2 separate regions of the Homo sapiens genome follow, and region 2 is linked to region 1. Evidence: fine-mapped expression QTL. A gene starts in region 1. The other region holds a variant in brackets. All regions are shown on one strand. Distances are between the middles of the regions.

What was found. PIP is the estimated chance that this variant, and not a neighbour inherited with it, causes the effect.
Region 2: its variant is the best candidate, but not a certain one, in a credible set for the expression of RXRA in skeletal muscle (GTEx, PIP 0.64).

What each region holds. Positions count from the first base shown.
Region 1 is chr9:134,324,053-134,328,419 of GRCh38, forward strand. RXRA (retinoid X receptor alpha) reads left to right here and starts at 2,403. Exons shown (of 10, transcript NM_002957.6): 1 at 2,403-2,607. The coding sequence starts at 2,580. RefSeq lists silencers at 1,901-2,080, 2,151-2,200, 2,939-3,078 and an enhancer at 3,689-4,367.
Region 2 is chr9:134,374,805-134,379,171 of GRCh38, forward strand. The region is part of intron 1 of RXRA (retinoid X receptor alpha); the gene reads left to right. Among named protein-coding and RNA genes, the nearest start is that of MIR4669, 2.4 kb to the right of the region's middle. RefSeq lists enhancers at 2,897-3,688, 3,689-4,367. The variant T/C (reference allele first, on the strand shown) is at 2,265.

The DNA.
Region 1 (4,367 bases):
AGTTTTCAGGGACAAGGAGTGAGATGGGGGTGGGGTGGAGAGTCCAGCATGCCACACCGCCCACTATTGGGAGGTGACCTCAGACACTTCAGCCCAGCCTTCCCACCATTGCCTGGCGTGTCCTGACCTGCCGTCCGCGGCCTGCTGCTCCTTCTCTCTGCAGGCCGCTGCTCAGCCGGCCCTGCTGCCTGGGCGGCCACTGCCTGATGGAACCTCCCTGCTCCAAAACCTGACTCAAGAACCAGTGATCCCAAAAGCTGCCTGAGCCCTTTGGCTGGATAGAGCCTTGCTCTCCCTGCACTGAGCATAGGCGAACGGCCTGCCTAATTCAGCGTCATTTCATCATCATCATCATCACAATAACTGTCACACCGAGCTCGTCCTCCCGAGCGCAGACTCTCCATATTATCTCACTTAGTCATCTCAGTGACTCAGTGAGGAGGGAGTGGTTGTTCCCACTTTACAGATGAGAAAACTGAGATACAAGGAGGGAAGTGACCCAGCTAGGCCACACGGTTGGTAGGAGGTGGACCTGCAATCTGGCCCAGGCCTTGTCTATCTGGGACTCCCCCCCAACCCCCCAACCTGAGTACAGTCAGGAGGGGCCCAAGCAGTCACAGAGACAGGCCTGGAACGCGGCGGGCACATGGCACTTTTGCAGTGTATGTTGGTGCTTACGGGGGCTCTTTCTCAGTCCTATCCTTTGTTTGCCGCCCCCCTCCCTGGCAGGAGGAACTCAGTTTTAGAAGGGCAGTGGGTTGGGCCGGCATGCCATGTGCAGTGGGGAAGTGGGTCTGTTGTGGCTGTAACCACAGTGGGTGAGGACCAGGTGTCAACAGTGGCCCTCATCCCGGAGGGAGTGGGGCAGGCTGCCTGTTGGACAGGGTGTGTGAATAGGGGGACGGGGTGGCCTTTGGTAGGGGCCCAGGGGTCAGTGAAGAGGGGGAGGGGGAGAGGGCTGCCTTGGGCTCTGGCTGTGCTGGGGGTGGGCTGCCCAACCAGGGCACTTCTGTCCCAAGTGGAACCAAGACCTCCCACCGGAACAGGCCACCGGAGCCCTCGTGGAACCCAGCTCCGGGTGGCCCGACTTGAGGGGCACCCAGGCAGCAGGACACCTCTCTGGTCTCGGGCTGTTATCTTTGGGCCGTGTCATGGCTGTCCACACGCGGTCATCACCTCCTCACCTCCCTCCCCATTAGCGTCCCCTGACCCGGGCCACCACGCGCAGCCTGCGTGAATGGTCAGTCCCTGTGCCTCGCAGCCCGGGCCCTTAGGTCTAGGTGGTCAGCAAGCTCGCGGTGGGGGTGCGGAGGGAGGGCGCGGCGGGGCGCCTCGGCGCCTGCTCAGGAAGGCTGGGCTTGGCGGCGCGCAGGTAGCTCACACCCAAATCCGAATTCCAGCCGCCCGAGACGGCGGGCGGCGGGCGGCGCGCGGCGGAGGCGGCCCGAGCTGTCCCGGGGCAGGAGTGCTTCCTTTCGTTTTCAAACAAATCGTGAATTTAAAAGTCAGGCAGAGAACTACCCAGGGTATAAAAATAGCCACCGGCCACAAAGTCTGTGTCCAACTCCGGGCAGCGCCTGCCCAGCCTGGTGCCTTTGAAGAGGGGTCCCAGGAGTGCGGGTCGATGAGGAGGCGAAGCGCGCACCCCTCCTCGTTCCCGGTGGGCTCGTGGGTCTCTCCGTGGGGGTAGGGCGTGAAAGTGTGGGGTGGACCGGGGGTAGCGTCCGGAAGACGAAACCTTCCCCGGACGAGGAGCTTGTCCTCTGCCGTTGGGGCACATCGCCACTCCCGGGCCTCAGTTTCCCCACGTGTCCGCCGCGGCGGGGTGCGAGGTATGGGTGCCGCGGCCATCCCGCCCGGCTCTGCGCTTGCCTGGCCCGGGCCGGGGTCCCCTCGCGGCCACCGCCCGGCCGCTTTGTGTGGCCGCGCAGACAATGGCCCGGCCGCTGGGCTCCCGGCCCGGCTCTCCGCCTCCTCCGGGCCCTTGCGCGCAAGTGTGTGTGTGCGCGAGTGTGTGGCGGGCCCGGGGAGGGAGTTCTGCTCCCGCCCCCGCCCCCGCCCCGCTCCCTCTGCGCCCCGCCCCCTCCCACGCCGCCTCCTCGCGGCTCCCGGGAACCCCTGGCGGAGGCGAACTCGCAAGTTTGCACGGCGCTCTCAACTCGGCGGCCGGGCGGGCGGCGATCGCGGGGCGGCGGCGGCGGAGGGGGGCGCGCTCCGGGCGGGGCTGGGCGGGCGGGGCGCGGGCCGAGCGGTGGCGGCGGCGCTGCGCCGAGTCAGCGCCCGTCGCGGGCCCCCCGCCACCCCCCCGCCGGCGCCGCAGCGCCGCGGTCGGAGCGGGGCGCGGGCGCGCGGCGGCGGGGGCGCGGGCCGGGCGCGCGCGGCGGCGGCGCGCAGACACAAGTAGTTTACATTGTTGGGCGACTTTTGCAACAACTCGCCGCGCCGCGGCCTCCGCGCGCCGCCGCCGCCACCGCAGCCGCCGGCTCCCCGCCGCCCGGGCCCGGGCCGGCCGCGCCGGGGGCCGCCGCGCCCGCCGCCCGCTGCCTGCGCCGCCGGCCGGGCATGAGTTAGTCGCAGACATGGACACCAAACATTTCCTGCCGCTCGGTGAGTGCTCGCCGGGCCGGGCGGGGACGGGGCCGGGGGCCGGGGGCCGGCGGGCGGGAGGGGGCCGGGGGCGCGTTGGCGGCGCGCGCGGGGGGTCGCCGGCCCGGGCCCCGCTCGGACCCCTCGCCGACCTTCGCGTGAGTTCGGGCGCCGGGCCCGGGGAGGGTCGACCCGGGGCAACTTTTCGCGGGGCCGGGGCGGGGCTGGGCAGCGGGCGGGCGGCGGGGCCGGGGGGCGGGTGGCAGGTTCGCCCGGGACGAGGAGGGGTCTCCCGCTCACCGGCGGCCGCCTGCGCCCCGGCGCCCAGCTGCAGCCGCGCCGCACAGGAACCCGGCCGGAGCGGGAGGAGCAACTTCTGCGCTCCGCGGCTCCGGCCTCCCTGGCCTGGGGACCGGGACGGCGCGCTGGGCCCCGAGCGGCCTCTGCGCCGCCCGCCCGTCGGGCTGCGGCTTCTAGCAGGCCGCTGGCCCTTGGGTGTGTGTCCGCCCAGGAAACAGACTGGGACCCTGTTATCCCCAAAGCAGCCCACGCCCGGGTGGGCAGGGTCCCCCGGGGCTGTATGAACAGAACGTCAGACCTGGGAAGGCCCCATTCCAGAAATGGGGCCCCTCACTCTGGCACCCCCGGGTGTTCTCCCAGGCTGGCTCTCCATTTGTGAGCAGGACAGCGCAGAGGCGCGTAGGGTCAGTTTCCCTCCTCCTCCTGCCATCCCGCCCGGTAGCTTCCTATCCCAGACTGCCCGCCAACTCCAGGCCCAGACCTACCGAGAAGGGGGAGAGGGCATGGCTGGGGCCCCCACCCATTGCCCTCCCAAGGGTTTGGAAGCTAGTGAGAAGGGGGAGACTTTATAAATTAGCTCCGGGAAGGATATTAATTTGGTGGTGGGACGGCAGCCAGGCTGTCAGGCCGGGTGAAGGATTTGTGCTGAATGGAAATCGAAACAGCTGATTATGAATGAAGCCCCCGCCATCCGTAGCCCCTCCTGCCCACCCTCCCTGCAGCCTGGGGTGCAGCTTGGCCACCCCAGGAGGTGCTCAGAAGCCAATGTAGCTGCAGGGATGTTTAGTGAGATGGGGCATCAAGGGGAGCCAGCATGGACCTAGCCCCTCCTGGATGTGAGGGTGAGAGTCTGAGTACCTCTGCTACTCACAGGCAGGTGTGCTGCCCCGTGACCGGGGCAGGCGGTGGGTTCCAGGTTTGTCAGACCTAACGCTTACTCCCTGCCTCTGTCATGATGGAGTGGTGGGCTCGAGGCCTTGAATGAGCTCCAGGGCTCAGCCTCCAGGGGTGGGCGCTCATGCCCATTTTGCAGATGAGAAAACTGGCTGGGAGAGGCTGAGCCCCCAGGATACAAGGTGGTGGATTTGGGATTAGCACCCCCAGCTCGTGGTACTGCTGAGTGTGAGGCAGGAGGGAATGCTGCGCTGTCTGTGACCGAGTGCAGTGTGGAGTGGGCTGGGGCTGCCTTTCCCTGTTAAAGCTTTGCACTCACACATGTGCACACACACATCCACACACACAGAGCTAGGCTCTCCCAGACGATTCCTCTGGAACAAGAATGCTCAGCTCAGTGTCTGGCCCCTGGACGTGGCAGGGGCCTGGCTGGTTGCACTTCAGCTGAGTACTGAGAACCGAACAGGTCCCTGTTTCTAATGCTCCGGGTGGGACAGGGATAGTCCACGGAGTTGGTGGATGTAGGGCGAGGGAGCAAGGGGTGCCCAGTCGCCATGGTGGCTTGCTGGAGTCCCTGTGAGGAGGAG
Region 2 (4,367 bases), 51 kb after region 1:
TCGTGTTACTGCTTGGGTCTCCTTGGAACTCGGCGCCTGCCTGGCTAGTTCTTAAGGACTCCTGCAGCTGGCGCCGACCTGGTCCCGCTATCCTGTAGGTCTGTACTTGGCACCTGCTATGTGCCAGGCACTGGCCAGGGCCCAGGGTGTCACAATGGAGTGGCCATGGCTCTATCCTCGGTAGCCCTCAGCCTTGGCACCCAGGGTGAGGGGCTGACTGTGCCCTGCACTGCAGGGAGTGCTCTTGAGGGGGTGTGTAGGAGATGAGACCCCTACCCCAACTGAGAGACTCTGGGAAGGCTTCCTGGAGGAGGTGTTATATAAAACGGAGCCAGGCTGGAGTGAGCCAGGAAACAGGTGGAGGAGTTTCAGGCCCAGGGAACAGCATGTTCAAGGCTAGAGGCGAGAGAGCCTGACATGTTCCTGGAATGACCCAAGGCTGGGGGTGGAGAGCAGGCCGGGCCAGAGCGCGTGTCACTGTGGGGAGGTGGGAGCTGCCTGCTGTCTTCCTGGCCTGGTTCCGATGGCTGTGGCTGGCTGGGCACCCAGGAAACCTTCCTGCCTCCAGAATTGCAGTGGCTTTTGGGGTCTGAGGGGGGATGCTCTTCATGGAGGGCAGCCGAGGGCTCCCGGGTGGGCTGTGGACACTGTGAACAGTTGCTCCAGGCAGTGGGCAGGGGATTCCAGGCAGGTCCTGGCCCGGAATAAACCCTGGTTCATCTGAGGGTCAGCCCGGAGACTGTGTGTGGATGATCGGCCTGGCGGGAGAGCTGGGAGTGACGCTGGGTTGGCCGTCTAGTTTTACAGCTGGGAACACGGGCCAGGGCCAGCGGGCAGCCTGGGGTGGCCAGCAGGTGGGCCCGGGGCCGGCAGCTCTGGGCCCTGTGTGGGTTGTCAGGGCTGGAGGAGAAGCCTGAGGGCTGGGGTGAGGGCGATTTGGAAGCAGCCACTCCCTGGTGCGGAGTAGGAGGGCTGGCTTCTGGCAGGAGAGCATTCTCGGTGTGAGAGTTTGTGTTAGTGGCTGGGGGATGCTGAGATTCTGTAAAACACTCCCCCAAACAAACAACAAACACCACGTGCCCTGCGACTCGATGGCAGAGGCCACGTAGAGAAAACAAGCTGCCGGCCGCCCTCCCTCCCTCCCTCCCTCTCTCTCTCTGCTTCCCCCCCACCCCACCCCGCCAGGCTCGCAGCCTGCTGGCCTCCCTTCTCCGCATGCGGGCAGATCATGACAAGCCTTGCTATTTATTAATTTTTTAAAACAAAAATGGAATTCAGATTTGTGTTTCCTATCAAAGTTGGGATCTTCCTTAGGAAGGAAGGCACCCTCCCACCGGCCCCGCTGGTTGGGGCGGAAGAAGGCGGCCCCTCTGCAGGCGCAGCCAGGCCTTCTTGTGGAGGCCCAGAGGGGCACCCTCAGCCGCGGGGCCTGCCCATGCCAGCTGTCGCACCTCGCAGTGCCCAGGGTTGTGGGGGTCTAGGAGCTTCGGTGCCTGGCAGGGTGCGTGTTTATGCATGTGTGTGTGCCTCGTGCTCTGATCTGTGCGTGTGCCTGTGTGCCCCATCCACACTGCTCCCGTCTATGCTGTCTCCATTCCTTCGCGGGGGCAGAGGTCCCTCCAGTGGCCCAACCACAGCCCCCACTGCTGCCCTGTCCTACCGTTTCTTCTCTCTCCTCCCCTGCCGCCCGCCACACTCTGCTCAGGCAGCCCTGGGCTCATGACTTGACAGCCTGGCCAGCTGCGTGGCCTCGGCCAGGGCGACCTTTGTGTGTTGGAGCCTTGCCGCGTTCTCTGTCTATAGAAGGTGATGCTTAGGGAGCTCTCAGAGAACCAGTGAGACCTGTGCTGGCTGGTGCATCTCGGGTGCTCAGCGCGTGGGCAGTACCCTCCCTGGCTGTGCTCCTGGGGGAAGCTGGGCACTGGGCATGGAAATGAAAGCGTGGTAGAGAGGGACCTCCTGGCTCCTTGCAGCTGAGACCAGCCAGGGGCGCAGCCCTAGGGATCTGGCTGGGCCTGCAGGCTGCAGGGTCTCAGGAGGGAGGGAAGGGGCATGGTGAGGGCACCTTGGGCGTCGAGTCTCTGAGGGGGTGCAGGAAGCATTTCCTTACCTGTGGCGGGCAGTCGCTGGGCTGACCTCTGGGCCACGTGTTCACTGGCTGAGTGTGCGATTGTGTGCCCTGGCCCTGTGCCACGCCCACTGTCCTTGACCCGTCAGCCGGGTTTTCCTGGCAGCCCTGTGACTGCTGGCCTAGGGGCCGACCC[T/C]GTGAGGGGCTGGCACTGGGAATGGGGACCTGGCCAGTCTTGCTCAGCCTTTGGGGACGGAGCCCCAAGCTCGCTGCATCCGTGCTGGGCACTGACAGTACCCATTCTCACCCTGTCTGTGCTCCGCTTTCATTTCTGGGGGCCTCTGGCAGTGTTGGGGTTACTGATCTCCGCCAGCCCCAGGGGTGTTGGGTCCTTGATGGCGAGCTGGCTGCCCTCCCTGGGCCACATGCTGTCCCACATGGAAGGCGATGGCGTTGTCCCCATCACTGCCTGACCAAGGGCAGGTGGCCCAGAGCATGGGAGGCCTGGAGCATGGGAGGCCCAGAGCATGGGAGGGGTCCCCAGTGTCCAGCACAGTTGTGGGGCTGGGCCCTCCTTAGAACTCAGCCCTGCGTGTGCTGGCATCACCGCTCGGGAAGGCATGCGTGTCCTTCCTGCACAGCTGGGTGAAGTCTCCGTGTGTGTGTGCCCTGCAGCCAGCACACCCACACCCCCAGCTCCCGCGACCCCTCGGAGATATCCGTTTTCCCAACTTCCCTCTCCGGGACCACTTCTGTCTCTTGTTGGCCTTTATGAAAACAGAGGTCAGTTTGGATGTGGGGGTCAGGGAGGAGCACTCTACTCTTGCAGAGATGTAACATTTTTATTCTGACTTCCAGCTGCTGCCCGATTTCCACCGTCTGTGTGTGCGTTTTGATCTGTCATACCCTCGTGCTCTGCAGACCAGCTTCTGTCCCCAGGAAGCCATCTCGCTGCCCCCCTCCACACCCACCTCCATCAGAACCAGTATGGGGGACGTTGCGTGAGCTGATGGGGTGCTGAGTGGGGACCCTCCTGCTCTGCCCCCCTTGGAGGGGCTGTGAGAATCCAGGTGTGTGCGGAAGGGCCGAGCTGGGGCAGGTTATGTGCAGCTCAGCGTCGGCCACACCCAGGCCTGGCCCCTGTGCTGTCCTCCTGGAGTGGTGGCCATGGGGGCACAGTGGTGCCCTGGGTGGCGAGCAGGTTTCACGATGACTGTGGCTGGCGACGAGGAGCTAGCTCGGCAGGAAGCTGGCAGCCACCCAGGGTTCTGGGCAGGGCCGGGGCAGAGGGCACAGGCAAGGCACAGAGCTCTGGAAGTGCCAGGCCACCCCGGCTGCTTCCTGGGAGATGAGTCCCTGGCTGGATGCTGTCATCCTAGGCAGAGAGGCGAGTTCTCTGTCTGCTGGGTCAGCGCTGGGGAGCCAGGCCGGTGCTGGTGTTGCTGCCTTGCTGCCGCCACCTGAAGGCGTGTGTGCCGGCCAGCGCCTGTGTGCGGGGTCCTTACCACTGTGTGGTTTAACCCTTGCCACCCAAGAGGGCTGTGGCCATCTGCCTCCAGAACGCAGCTGGTGAACAGAGCTGGCCTGGTCCCGAAGGGTCCTGTGGCCTGGAGGCAAATGTGGATGCTTGTTGGTTTATTTGCTTAGAGGCAGGGTCCTGGGTGCCGAGGGAATAGGCTGTGGCCCCTGTCACCTGTCCCCAAGGAGCAGTACCTGGGGAAGGTACCGAAGTGGTGGCCCTCCCTGCCCCTGCCAGCCTCAGGACTGTGGCCATTAGGCTGGGTCGGCCGCTCAGAGTCACAGGAGGGGTGGGTAGGGAGCTCTGACCCTGGGCAGCGCGTGCCGTCCGGTTGCTCCCAAAGGCAGCCTGGAGTTGGGGTTTGCCGAGGGAGGCTGCCCCCGCAGACCCCAGGCTGTGAAGCACCCCAGCCTTGTAGGGGTGCCTGCAGGAGTCCCGGCAGCTTCAGGAGCGGCCTCTGGAGCCTGGAGGGCAGGAGCCAGACCATCCTTGGCTGTGACTTTGTTTTGTTTCCTCAAGTCAGATTGTCCTGCTTCATCCTGTGCCCGGAAGAGAGGTCCTGCTGCTGTCCTCGGGTGGGAACACACGTCTCTTGCCTTCCCTCCTTGAGGGTGGGGGTGGACCTCAGCCGCCACCCATTTGTCAGTCAGCAAATGCAGCTCCTGCTGGGTCACTTGCCTGCCAGCTGAGCTCCTGGGATGCAGCCCAGCCTGTGGGGCCACCCGGCTCCTCCAGCCTTATAGCTCCTCCCCACCACACCTCCTCTGCACAGCAGGACCC